Linked DNA regions of Homo sapiens. The protein of the gene in region 1 interacts with the protein of each later gene in a biochemical or structural test. Each region holds a gene or a part of one and is shown in the gene's direction. Other genes may lie near its edges.

Region 1 (3,500 bases):
TGCCTGGGCTTTAAAGGAATTTTTTAAAGAAAGCAACATGATATTTTTAGACTAACCAGTTGGTTAAGAAAATATAAGATAAAAAGCAATTATTGAAAGCATTGTTCAGTGTTCTATTTAATCACAGAAACATCTGCATATATTTGAAAAATAGTGACACATGTGAGACATTTAGTCTGCAGATGGTATGTCACATGGTGGTTAAGAGCTCAGGCTGTGGAGTCAGAACCCACTTTGAATCCATAGCTTACTATTTTTAACTTTGGACACATTACCTACACATCAGTACTTCAGTTTTCTCATCTGTAAAATATGAAATGATATCAGTACCTAACTCGTAGATCTGTCATATAGACTATAAATAAGTTAGTATATTTAAAGAGCCTAGAGCACAACCTAGCACATTTTAAGTAGCATTTAAAGTGTTGGCTATTATCATAATGGTGCTATCTTGTGTAACCTATGCAGTAATTCAGAGACCTTTTACCTGTAAGTTTCTCTTCTGTTCTTAGATTCTTATTCTGGTGAATGACTGTTGGGACCTTTGAATAGATATTATTTTTAGAAATTTGTGTTCAGTTTTACCTCACCCGCTTTGAAATCTTTGCCTACCTCCTGCTGACAGATACTTCGGAGTTATTAATCCCTGAGCCACTGCGCCTGGCTTTTTAAAAATTTCTGTAGTTCTTGTTATTAAGCATGAGGTCTGGTATGTACATGGATGAATAAATAACATTTTCAAAATGGTTCTTTTTTTGTTTTAAGAAATCTTTTCCTACACTGAGATCTGCATTTCTTCTACACATTTTAAAGTTAGACTTTTACATTCAGGTCCATTATTTACCTGGAATTAATTTTTCTTTTTTTTTTTTTTGGAGACAGTGTCTCACTCTGTTGCCCAGTCTGGGCATGCTGTGGCATGATCACAGCTCACTGCAGCCTTGACCTCCTGGGCTCAAGAGATCCTCCCATCTCAGCCTCCCAAGTAACTGGGACCACAGGCACGTACTACCACGTCCAGCTAATTTTTTTTTTTTTGAGATGGAGTTTCACTCTTGTTGCCCAGGCTGGAGTGCAATGCATGATCTCGGCTCGCTGCAACCTCCACCTCCTGGGTTCAAGCAATTCTCCTGCTTTAGCCTCCCGAGTAGCTGGGATTACAGGCATGCGCCACCACGCCCAGCTAAATTTTTTTTTTTTTTTTTGCATTTTTGTTAGAGACAGGGTTTCTCCATGTGGGGTTTTTTTTTGACCAGAGAATCTGAGAGGGGAAAGATTGAGCTTAAAACAGATTTGTGGGGAAATTCCAGGAGTTCTATTTTCAACATGTTAGCAAAGCCCATCACATGTCCAAGGACAGATTTGAGTTAGCAAATTGAATATCTAAATATGGATTCTAGGAAAGATGTCTTCAAGTAAAGATTGTATTTAAAGCTGTTAAGTACCCTAGTCTCATCAACACAGTATACTCAGTAAGACTTTATTCTTTCTTAAGGTAGATTTAAAATTACTAACTTAACCCTCCCCTGCCCGCAAAGAAAATAAATATATTAATTTTCTTGGATTTTAGGATCTTCAAGATGAAGTTCAAAGGGAGAATACTAATCTGCAAAAACTACAGGCCCAGAAACAGCAGGTACAGGAACTCCTTGATGAACTGGATGAGCAGAAAGCCCAGCTGGAGGAGCAACTCAAGGAAGTCAGAAAGAAATGTGCTGAGGAGGCCCAACTGGTAATGTCTGGCTGTTTCCTGCTGCCTGCACCTATACATTAGTTGCTTTTCCTGGCTTAAGATGAAAACATTCTCTACTTTTTGTTATTGATGGTGGTGGTTGGCAATCCAGTCAGCATTTGGGTTCATGGGGGCGATGGAGCAAGGTTCATCCAGAAATTACAGGCCTTCTTTAGAGGAAATAGAAGGGCAGTTAATGAACTGTTTTTCCAAATTTTTGTTGGAAATATGGTGCCTATACCTTCAACTCTCCTCTGTCCCTCCCCCAGTTACCCTTCTTTACGAAAACCATACATCAAAAAACATCATAATTGGCTGGGCACAGTGGCTCACACCTGTAATCCCAACACTTTGGGAGTCTGAGGCGGGGGGAATTGCTGGAGCCCAGGAGTTGGAGACCAGCCTGGGAAACATGGAGAAATCCCATCTCTACAAAAAATATGAAAGCTGGTTGGGTGCAGTGGCTCACGCCTTTAATCCCAGCACTTTGGGAGGCCGAGGCAGGCGGATCACGAAGTCAGGAGATCGAGACCACGGTGAAACCCCGTCTCTACTAAAAATACAAAAAATTAGCCAGGGCGGTGGCGGGTGCCTGTAGTCCCAGCTACTCGGCAGGCTGAGCCAGGAGAATGGTGTGAACCCAGGAGGCGGAGCTTGCAGTGAGCTGAGATCACGCCACTGCACTCCAGCCTGGGCAACAGAGCGAGACTCTGTCTCAAAAAAAAAAAAAAAAAAAATTGAAAGCCAGGCGTGGTGGCCCACATCTGTAATCCCACCTACTCGAGAGGCTGAGGTGAGAGGATCACCTGAGCCTGGGAAAGTTGAGCCTGAAGTCTGAAGTGAGCTGTGATCGTGCCATTGCACTCCAGCCTGGGTGACAGAGTGAGACTGTCTCAAAAAAATAAAACATCAACAACAACAACAACATCAAAAACTCCATAATAGGGCTAGGTATGGCTGGGCATGTTCCTATAGTCCCAGCTACTCAGGAGGATCACTTGAGCCCAGGAGTTTGAATCCAGCCTGGGCAACATAGCAAGACTCTCTCTCTCAAAAATTAAATTAAATAAATTATTTGCTATTGCTGTCAAAAAAAACACCAAAATAGTAAACTAAACAAATAAATGTATTGCATTTTGGAACATTTTAATGACATCTCTTCTTTTAATCCCCATTTCTTCTCATTCACTTTCACATTATAGATCTCTTCTCTGAAAGCTGAATTAACTAGTCAGGAATCGCAGATCTCCACTTACGAAGAAGAATTGGCAAAAGCTAGAGAAGAGCTGAGCCGTCTACAGCAAGAAACAGCAGAATTGGAGGAGAGTGTAGAGTCAGGGAAGGCTCAGTTGGAACCTCTTCAGCAGCACCTACAAGATTCACAACAGGAAATTAGTTCAGTAAGTCTTTGTAAAGCAAGAAATATATTCAAATGGATCCTCTGTGTCCTTTAGTCAGTTATACTTTCCAACTTCTGCTCCTTCAACCTCTTGCCTAGTTTACTGTTCATTTTTCAGTCATTTTATACAATAGGTTTTTTTGTCACCTGTTATATATTGAAACTATCATACATCTTGTATATCTATCTGATGATTATCATTGGAGTAGTGATTAAGAGTGTGGGCTTTGTGGCTAGATGGTCTAGGTTTAAGTACTGGTGTGCCACTTACTAGCTAAATCACCTTAGTATCAGATTCTTCATCTTCAAAATTGGAGGATTAATAAATACCCTACCCCTTAGGGCCACTGTGAGGATTAATGAGGCAAA
Region 2 (3,929 bases), on another chromosome or scaffold:
TGGAGCAGAGAATACAAATGGGAGGCCGAGGCGGGCGGATCACAAGCTCAGGAGTTCAGGACCAGCCTGGCCACTATGGTGAAACCTGGTCTCTACTAAAGATACAAAAATTAGCTGGGCATGGTGGCACACTTCTGTAGTCCCAGCTACTTGGGAGGCTGAGGCAGGAGAATCGCTTGAACCCAGGAGGCAGAGGTTGCAGTGAGCCGAGATCATGCCACTGCACTCCAGCCTGGGCAACAGAGTGAGACTCCGTTTCAAAAAAAAAAAAAAAAAGAATATGTACGGAGGACACGAGTGATCTCAGAAGAGTCTGCTGAACACTGGACTTGAGCCTGGCACGGAATGCCCAGTCCCGCTCTCCACCCAAAGGAGCTGGACCTCAGATCACCCCAAACCACTCCTGGCTCATGGTGGAGCACACATGTTCCAAAACTTAGGAAAGTGAGGACTGTATTTGGGGCAGAGAAAGAAAAAATGGATCAGGACAACATATGAAAGATCTAAAGAAAATAAGTAAAGGCTTAATTATTGTTTTGAAAATAATTTGTCAAAGTGTTTGAGGTTTTTTTACAGCAAGCTCCATAATTCGGTAACTCAAAATTATGTTCCTAATATAAAAATGTCATTTGGAGGTTTAATTATTTGTAATTTTTATACTTTTTAGTTTTGTAAATTTAAGAGTTCTATTCTGGGTTGATGAAAGTAGAAAATGTAAGGTGTGGGAAAATTACAAAAACAGAGGAGATTCTGAAATAATCCTTAAGAAACCACCTAAATTCCTAGGAGAATTTCACAGTTTCAAAGGCTATGAAATGGGTGGGCTCAGGCCTAGATCTCCAAGGTACAAGGAGAGCCAGGTGACACCTGTGTTCCAGGGGAAGAGAATAGAAAATGGACTGAGGACTGTCTCTGACAGGGTGAGCAGCTGGAGTGGGAAGGAGCGATTTGGGGGACCCAGGAGGGTGGAGGGACTGGGGGCTGGGAGCTGAGGGCGGGGCTGTGCTTCAGCCTCCTCCTCCCACTGCCCCTCCCCCACCCCCAGGAGCCCTTTGTGAGGAGGAGGCCCCAGCTGTGTGATACAAGCCTGGGCCCCAGTCCCTAGTCCCAAAGGGGATGCCCAGAGCTCAGTTGCTTGAAGGCGATGGGAAATCTCGTCATCCCTCTAGGGAAGGGCAGGGCAGGCAGGGTTGAGAGTGGGCAGAGGATTCCACCCCCAGCTCCCAGACCATCTGTGGAGTGCACAGGAGACGACATTGCACTTCAGATGGAGAAAATGCTCTTTCCTCTGAAGAGCCCTAGTGCCACATGGCTGAGCCCTAGCTCCACTCCCTGGATGATGGATTTCATCCTCACCAGTGTGTGTGGCCTAGTGCTCCTCTTCCTATTGCTCCTCTACGTCCACAGTGACCCACCCTCACCCCCGCCCGGGAGGAAGAGGAGCAGCAGGGAGGTAAGGAGTCCTCAGCCCAGCCCCACAGAGAAAGATTCTCTCTTCTTTTCCTCCCCTCATTTCCACTTTTCCTAAGCAATGTGAGACCCTTCTGTGATGGGAAATCTCGTCATCCCTCTAGGGAAGGGCAAGGCAGGCAGGGGTGAGAGTGGGCAGAGGATTCCATCCCGAGCTCATCTGTGGGGTGCACAGGAGGCGTCAGGGCAAAAACCAACACTGGACTCAGTGGCAAGGACCGGGTCAGGAGAGGGGTGAGGTCTCTGTGGGAGGAGAGGCCCCAGCCCTGGCTCATCACCCCCTTCCTGGGGCAGGTGCCTGGGGGCCCAGCCTCCTCTGTATGATCTGGGTGTGATCTGGGAGCTGTGCTGAGCTCCTGAGAGCCTCCCAGTAGAGCCTGGATTCGCCTGTGGCTGCACCCCGGCCACATGTGCTTTTTCCTCCTTCACCACAGCCCCATGGTACCCTGGCCTCCTCTCCATTCTCATCCAAAGCAGAATCCTACTGGCAGCTCAGAGGCGCCTGTGGGCCTGAGCCTAGGTGTTCCTTGAGCGGAGGAGCAGGGACTGGGGACAGCCAGGTTGGAGTCACACAGACAACCCTTCCTTGCATTTCCCTAAGAAGGAAAACAGAAAACATTTCATTCACGGTAAACATGAGTAAAAAGCACACACAGAGCTCCCTGAGCTAGAGGCTGAGAGCCGTGTCCCTCATGAGCACTGCGTGTGTGCAGCTGGTCTGGGGAGAGGAGACTGAGAACTGGTCCCAGCCCCTCATCCTTTCTTGCCTCTCAGCCTCAAAGGGAGAGAAGCGGGAGGTCCAGGAGCAGGAAGATCTCAGCTCTGAAAGGTGAGGCTCTGCTGCCCCCCGGGACTCCCCAGAGGTAACTGAGCTTTGCCTGTCCCTGAGGAAGTCATTTGCAGAGGCCTGAGAGGGAAGCTCCTGGGAGAGAAATCAGAACCTGCGGCCTCCTCAGATTCCCTGCGGGAATGAAGCCACGGGCCTGGGACCGGTATTGCCCATAAGGGGGCGGTGTGGGGAAGGGACCAAGGCCTGCCTGGATATGGGGGGAGGTCAGGGAGGCTCCAGGTCCATGTGGACAGCTGTTCACCTCAGCAATGGCTGACTCCTCTTTGAGACCACCCATTTGCTCTCCCAACAAGATGGTTGTGACACCGATGAGGGGGTGGACGTGGAAGCACTTTTTGCAAATGACAAAGTGCTGCACAGTGGAAACCTTCCTGTCACCATTGGGGCCATGTGGCCTCGGACACAGATGCGAGGGCTTCAGGGTCTAGTCCCCCATGGTGTCCCCTAAAAAGACATCCACTCAGCCTCCATGAGGTTCCCAGGCACCGCCCTCTCCACCATAACCCTGTCTCCTGATTTCCAGCTTGCAGAATCCTCCTGAGGGAGCTGGAGGAGACTCGGGACCTGAACTACCTTCTGGAAAGGTGAGGAGCTTCCCCCTTCTGTCCCTGTCCTCCTTCCTACCAGGGCCTCTGATGCAACCCTACGGCCTGGTGGTGATCTGGGAGGGGGAGGTCCCGGGAAGGGGACAGGAGGGGACTGAAGCCCTGGGGCAGGCTTAGGCAGAGCTTTATGAAGTCAGCAGTTGGGGAGGTGGAGGAACCGGGGGCCCCAGGTGCCCACCCGTCCCAGCTTCCCGGCCCCATCTACCCCTGGCTGCAGCTTGTGCCTCTTGTCTCCTGCAGCCACCTGAGGAAGCTCGCTGGCGAAGGCAGCTCCCACCTGCCCTTAGGTGGAGACCCCCTGGGGGACGTGTGTAAACCAGTGCCTGCTAAGGCCCACCAGCCGCATGGGAAATGCATGCAAGATCCGTCTCCTGCCAGCTTGTCCCCACCAGCTCCCCCAGCTCCTCTGGCCTCCACCCTGTCACCAGGCCCGATGACCTTCTCAGAGCCTTTTGGACCACACTCAACCCTGAGTGCCTCCGGGCCACCAGAGCCCTTGCTTCCCCTAAAATGCCCTGCAACCCAGCCACATGTGGTTTTTCCTCCTTCACCACAGCCGCATGGTCCCCTGGCCTCCTCTCCACCTCCACCCGACTCCAGCCTGGCTGGACTTCAGTGTGGCTCCACAACATGCCCCGTCCCCCAGAGCTCCCCTCTACACAACCAGGTGCTGCCTCCTCCAACCAGGGTGATCTCTGGCCTGGGGTGCTCCAGCGATCCCATCTGGGACCTCTATTGCTGGAGGGAGGCTGCCACCACCTGGGGCCTCTCCACCTACTCACATGGCAAATCCCAGCCACGGCATCTTCCCGACCACACCTCAGAGGCTTCCTTCTGGGGAGACCCCACACCCAAGCACATGGAGGTAGGTGGCTGCACATTCATCCACCCTGACGTGCAGAAGCTGCTGGAGACCCTCATCGCCAAGAGAGCACTGATGAAGATGTGGCAGGAGAAAGAAAGAAAACGGGCCGACCACCCGCACATGACATCACTGGGGAAGG
Region 3 (3,500 bases), on another chromosome or scaffold:
TATTGGGAGTGATTTACGGAATTTGTTCAAAGTCATATGATTAATAAATGGAAAGTAAGGCCTGCAACAGTTCCATAATATTAAATTTATTAGTACTGAATGATGAAATATTATATTAAACTTATTTGGAATTCTACATTTATAGCCGTACTAATTTTTTTTTTTTTTTTTTTTTTGAGACGGAGTCTTGCTCTGTCTTCTAGGCTGGAGTGCAGTGGTGAGTTCTCGGCTCACTGAAATGTCCGCCTCCTGGGTTTAAGCAATTCTGCTTCAGCCTCCCGAGTAGCTGGGACTATAGGCACCTGCCACCATGCCCGGCTAATTTTTGTATTTTAGTAGAGATGGGGTTTTGCCATGTTGGCCAGGCTGGTCTTGAACTCCTGACCTCAGGTGATCTGCCCGCCTCAGCCTCCCAAAGTGCTGGGATTATAGCCGTGAGCCACCATACCTGGCCCTTTTTTTTTTTAAACTGAGACAAGGTCTTGCTCTGTCACCCAGGCTGGAGTGCAGTGGCATGACCTTGGCTCACTGTAACCTCTGCTTCCTGGGCTCAAGTGATCCTCCTGCCTCAGCCTCCCAAGTAGCTAGGACTGCAGGCACACGCCAGCACACCTGACTAATACCATACTAATTCAAGTAAAACAGTTCTCATGTATAGTGAATAAGGGTTAACTAAGCCTTGTCTCTTTTGACTAACACATTACAATTTAGTTTTTTGTTTGTTTGTTTTTGAGAGGGAGTCTTGCTCTGTCACCTAGGCTGGATGCAGTGGCATGATCTCGGCTCACTGCACCCTCCGTCTGATGGGTTCAAGCAATTCTCCTGCCTCAGCCTCCCAAGTAGCTGGGATCACAGGCATATGCCGCCACGCCCAGCTAATTTTTTGTGTTTTAGTAGAGATGGGGTTTCACTGTGTTGCCCAGGCTGGTCACGAACTCCTGAGCTCAGGCAATCCACCTGCCTCGGCCTCCCAAAGTGCTGGGATTACAGGCGTTAGCTACCACGCCGGGCCTACAATTTAGTTTTTAATAATGCAGCAGTCTTCCTCTTATCTGCAGGGGATATGTTTCAAGACCTCCAATGAATGCCTGAAACCACAGATAGTACTGAACCCTATATATACTATGTTTTCCCTATATATACATTTTTATGATAAAGTTTAACTTATAAATTAGTAACAAGAGATTAACAACAATAACTAATAATAAAATAGAATAATTACAACAATATAGTGTAATAAAAGTTATGCCCTGTGGCCATAACTTGTGCAACTTGAGGTGTGACAGCAAAACTAGCACAAATTTCTTTTTCCTTCATAATTTTGCAGATAAAAGATCTTACCATAGATCTTAGCAACCTCAGCATGAGGTTTTTGGTTTTTTTTCTTATTAGGTTGAGAACTTTCACCTTTTTGCTTAAAGGAAGCAGTTTACAACTTCTTTTTGACATACGTGAATCTCTGCTTTTACACTTTGAAGCCATGATTAAGTAAAATGAGGGTTACTTGAACACAAGCACTGTAATACTGCTATAGTCAGTCTGGTAACTGAGACGGCCACTTAGTGATTAACAGGCAGGTAGCATCTACAGTGTGGATACACTGGACAAAGGGATGATTCATGTCACAGACTGGGCGAAGTGAGGTGGTGCACAATTTAAAACTTATGAATTGTTTATTTCTGGAATTTTTTATTTAATATTCTTGGACTGTGGTTGACTGCAAGTAGCTGAAACCATGGAAAGCGAAACCATGGATAAGGGGGGACTACTACACTAAATTCTGAAACATACCAATAATGGTGTAAACCCACATGTCTTTTTAATAGAGTAAAATGAAATAATTACACATTATAATACCAATTTCAGAACAAGAGTTATGGGCATAAGCATCCTGGAGGTGTTTTTTTTTTTTTTTTTGGAGGTGTTATTTTAATTTCTCAATTACAGAGTTTTAAAAATGAAAATGATTTTTTAAAATTTTGGTAGGTTGAATGATTTAAGATGCTGATTTCAGCTGGAAACAAATTGTTGCCTTCATATTATTTTGTTGCTCCTAGCAGCATGTTTATATTCATTCTTATATTGATGGTTCCCAGTCTTGACTGGTGTTAGAATTCATTTGGGAAGCTTTTTAAAAATACCTATGTGGGCAAGGCGAGGTTGGCTCATGCCTGTAATCCCAGCACTTTGGGAGACCTAGGCAGGAGGATCACTTGAGCCCAAGAGTTTGAGACTATCCTGGACAACATAGTGAGACTCTGTATTTTTTTAAATATATAAATAAGAAAATAAATACCTGTGTGTATGTCTCATCCATAGAGATTCTGATTTAATTGTTTAGGAGTGGGATCTGAGCATCAATATTTTTTTAAAGTTCTCTAGGTAACTGATTCTAACATACAGCTGGGATTGAGAACTATGTTTTTGGTGCATGTTAAGTACGATCTGGCTCCCTACTTAATGATTTTGCATCTGTTAAAAAATTAATGAGGTAGAAGACAAAAGAAATGGATTAAAGTTATAAATGTAGATAGACATCTATTCTGGAAAACAGTTACCCTTTTGTTAGTTTCTGGGAATGGTCCTTAATAAAACAAACAGACATTGGCCTGGTTTGCTAAGTGCCTATATCACAGCATTAAGCCACACTTTACTTTGTTACCGTTATGTACTTAACTTTCATTTTAAGAGGCAGAAACTTTATTAAGAGTTGTATTTTTTTAGTATCCCCTGTATCACAACACTGCACCTTGTGTATAGTAGGTATCTATTGTTTACCTAATTGAAGCCAGTTTAGACAGTCACTCTTTAGAACTAGGGCTAGTTCAGCTCCTTGGGAGGCTGAGGCAAGAGAATCGCTTGAACCGGGGAGGTGGAGGTTTTGGTGAGCCGAGATTGCGCCACTGCTCTCCAGCCTGGACAGCAGAGTGAGACGTCATCTCAAAAAAATAAAGAACTAGGGCTAGTTTATTCTTTTCTTTTCTTTTTTTCTCATGGCATTCTAAGACTCCCCCAATTAGACAGGGTCTCCCTCTATTGCTCAGGCTGGAGTGCAATGGTGTAATCATGGTTCATTGCAAGCTCAACCTCCCAGGCTCAAGGAAGGCCTCAGCCTTCCGAGAAGCTGGGACCACAGGCGCATGCCACCATGCCCTGCTAATTTTTTATTTTTTTATTTTTTTTTTGTAGTGATAAGGTCTCACTGTGTTGCCCAGCAGTTCACCAAATCCTAGATAACATAATTTTGGTGTCAATACTTAATTATCTTCCAAAACAATAGGGATTATCAAAGTCAACATTGATGCCTTATTAGTTGATAAACAGATTTAATATCTGTCTGCTCTCACATATAACTGATTTCTAGTTAATATTTACATCTTAAGATGTTCCTTTGGCATACACTCAACATTTTCCACATCGAATTACCTACTTTGCTGTAAACCAGTGGTTCTTGTTGGGGGTAATTTTGCCTTCCAGGACACATTCGGCAATGACTGTAG
Region 4 (2,991 bases), on another chromosome or scaffold:
AAATTTGTTCTCTCAAAAATAAGACACAGGCTGGGTGCAGTGGCTCATGCCTGTAATCCCAGCACTTTGGGAGGCCAAGGCAGGTAGATCGTGAGGTCAAGAGATCGAGACCATCCTGGCCAACATGGTGAAACCCTGTCTCTACTAAAAATACAAAAATTAGCTGGATGTAGTGGCACGTGCCTGTAGTGTCAGCTACTCGGGAGGCTGAGGCAGGAGAATTGTTTGAACACGGGAGGTGGAGGTTGCAGTGAGCCAACATCGCACCACTGCCCTCCAGCCTGGCGCAGAGACTCCGTCTCAAAAAATAAAAAAATGAGATACAAATTTTCTAACCAGATTTTAAGTTTCCCTCTGCTATTCAGGTATCAGGTGTTTCTGTGAGGAAATGGAAAAATCTTATAAATGTGGTTTTTGATGTGGTTAGTCAAGCCTTTGAAAAGAATATCCAAGGCCAGGCATGGTGGCTCATTCCTGCAATCCCAGCACTTTGGGAGGCTGAGGCAGGTGGATCACTTGAGGCCAGGAGTTGGAGACCAGCCTAGACAATGTGGCAAAACCCTGCCTCTACTAAAAATACAAAAATTAACCAAGTGTGGTGGCACGTGCCTGTAGTCCCAGTTACTCAGGAGGCTGAGGCACGAGTCTAGCTTGAACCTGGGAGGCAGAGGTTTCAGTGAGCCAAGATTGCACCACTGTATTCCAGCTTGGGCCTTAGAGGGAGACTCTGTCTCAAAAAATAAATAAATAAATAAATAAATAAATAAATAAATAAATAAATAAATAAGAATGCTGTAAAATAGGCTGGGCACGGTGGCTCACACCTGAAATCCCAGCACTTTGGGAGGCTGAGGCGGGTGGATCATGAGGTCAGGAATTCAAGACCAGCCTGGCCAATATGGTGAAACCCTGTCTCTACTAAAAATACAGAATTAGCCAGGCATGGTGGTGTGCGCCTGTAATCCCAGATACTCAGGAGGCTGAGGCAGGAGAATCGCTTGAACCCAGGAGGCGGAGGTTGCAGTGAGCCAAGATCGTGCCACTGCACTCCAGCCTAGGCAACAGAGTGAGAGACTCTGTCTCAAAAAAAAAAAACACAAAAAATTCTGTAAAATAGAAATCTGTTTTCTGTTGCTGACTGTGTACTCAGAAGAGGGACAGGAAATATTTCTAAGGTGATTGTCAAGGTTGTTGCTCTTGGTCTATGGTAGAACTTTTGCACAACCAAATTGGTTATCAAGAATTGTAAAAGTTTGAGGGCCTGGATAGTAATTAAGAATAAGGCAGCAGTTCATCTCCACTACTGATCTATGCCTCCAGGCATAATAATACAAGTTGGATCAATGTTGTGACATCCTATTCTCCATTTCTCTGTGTAGTGTTAAGCTTCTGTGCAGGGGATCACAGGATCTTACTGCTAGTACCTAGCATTTCTGTCCATTTGCTCTATCCAGAAACCTGGGAACCCTCCTAGACTCCTCCTTTCTCATTTCTTGATTCCAACTCCTAAATATCTTTCAAATAACTTTCTTAATATCTTTCCTTTTTATTAGCCCTAGTTCAGATCCCCCTTTCCTATCATCTAGAGTCCTAAACTGTTTTGACTTGCAGTTGGTCTCCCAACCTTGCATCTTGTGCTTCTCTTCCCTTTTGAGACACTAATCTGAAATGTTCTTGTCTTCCTTATCTTTGGTGACTTCCCATGGTTACATCATGAATTTCTTACCATGGCCTGGCCCATGCTACCACTCTAGTCTCATCTGCCACTCCCCTCTACCTGTATCCTGTTCTCCTGCTAATCTGATATAGATGCTATTTCGTTAAATGCATCATGCTCTGTCTCTGTATCTTTGGTAACTTCTGCCTAAAATACACACCATCATCCCCACCACCATTTATAATTTTCAGCTGAGATAGGTGCTTTTGTGCCTGTAGCTCCTCAGAGCTCCTTTACAGCATTTATAATATTCATTATAATTATTGGTTTACTGTTCCTGCCATTCCATTAGACTGAAGTATACTGAATAAATGGTGATGATACTAGAAACAAAACACCTCAGAAATACCTACTTGGCATTATGTTAGACCAGTAAAACTTTAAAAAGAAAAGTGAATAGAAAATAGCAATGTTATACAACTCTTCCCAACCGTAGTTACCTTTCCATCTTTACTTCTTCTACTACTCAGTAGTCATTTCTTTTTTAACTTTATGCCACCTATATCCCTCCTAGGGTTTTTCTCTGGGCTGTCCTCAGTTACTTCCTTCTTCTCTTTTGACTCGCCTCAACATGCATATAGCATAGGAGTCCAGTAGTTAACATCTCTGAAGATTAGTATTGAGTCAAAGAAAAGCATGGGTTATTTACTTAATGAAAATTGATATTCACTAAAAAATATGAGATTTGGAAACAGGATAATAGTTTGTTTACTGTGCACATCTAATGAATGTAGCACAGGACTGATGTAGTTTAGCTTACTTGCTCATTTGATTCTATTTTGTTTGAAATGTATTTTACCCTGTGTAAGTGCTTTATTCTTTTCTTTGTAGGTTCTGGGTCCCTCCGAGCAAAATTTGATCTTTCAGAAGGACCTAGTAAACCCACGACACTTGCAGTACAATTCCTCAGCGAGGGAAGTACCCTTTCAGGAGTAGATTTCGAACTTGTGGGCACTGGCTATAGGCTTTCCTTAATAAAGAAGCGGTTTGCTACTGGTAAGTTAGGAGATTTCAAACTTTTTAATGTACATGGGAAACATTTGTATTCTAACAGTTATTAAAAAACTGTCAAGCAATTTATAATCTAAAGACATGGAAATTTTTTCTTTAACCCTTGGTACAAGGTGCCAGGTAGAGACACACCTGGGAGAGAGTTCTTACGGTCAGTATAGCTGAACACCTGTTATCTGATTCTAATGTACTGTAAATAGCAGATGGGAACTAGAGTTTTGTATTGGTAACCACAGTGGAAAATGTCCTTAGAGTGCATTTGA

Evidence for each region. Proteins that work in one complex are often made in the same cells at the same time.
Region 2: the proteins of EPS15 (region 1) and SPATA31E1 interact in a test that uses a peptide from one of them, tested with the Homo sapiens proteins (one large-scale study listed by BioGRID and IntAct).
Region 3: of the proteins of EPS15 (region 1) and USP8, one has a biochemical effect on the other in vitro, tested with the Homo sapiens proteins (one study listed by BioGRID).
Region 4: the proteins of EPS15 (region 1) and FCHO2 form a complex in vitro, tested with the Homo sapiens proteins (one study listed by BioGRID).

What each region holds. Positions count from the first base shown.
Region 1 is NC_000001.11:51,407,767-51,411,266, reverse strand, and holds part of EPS15 (epidermal growth factor receptor substrate 15), read left to right. Parts: intron 1-1,570; coding exon 1,571-1,732; intron 1,733-2,934; coding exon 2,935-3,132; intron 3,133-3,500. UniProt on the Homo sapiens protein: Involved in cell growth regulation. May be involved in the regulation of mitogenic signals and control of cell proliferation. Involved in the internalization of ligand-inducible receptors of the receptor tyrosine kinase (RTK) type, in particular EGFR.
Region 2 is NC_000009.12:87,881,748-87,885,676, forward strand, and holds the start of SPATA31E1 (spermatogenesis-associated protein 31E1), read left to right. Parts: upstream 1-1,129; 5' UTR 1,130-1,144; coding exon 1,145-1,453; intron 1,454-2,244; coding exon 2,245-2,299; intron 2,300-2,843; coding exon 2,844-2,904; intron 2,905-3,165; coding exon 3,166-3,929. UniProt on the Homo sapiens protein: May play a role in spermatogenesis.
Region 3 is NC_000015.10:50,427,405-50,430,904, forward strand, and holds part of USP8 (ubiquitin carboxyl-terminal hydrolase 8), read left to right. Parts: intron 1-3,500. UniProt on the Homo sapiens protein: Hydrolase that can remove conjugated ubiquitin from proteins and therefore plays an important regulatory role at the level of protein turnover by preventing degradation. Converts both 'Lys-48' an 'Lys-63'-linked ubiquitin chains.
Region 4 is NC_000005.10:73,085,041-73,088,031, forward strand, and holds part of FCHO2 (F-BAR domain only protein 2), read left to right. Parts: intron 1-2,548; coding exon 2,549-2,713; intron 2,714-2,991. UniProt on the Homo sapiens protein: Functions in an early step of clathrin-mediated endocytosis. Has both a membrane binding/bending activity and the ability to recruit proteins essential to the formation of functional clathrin-coated pits.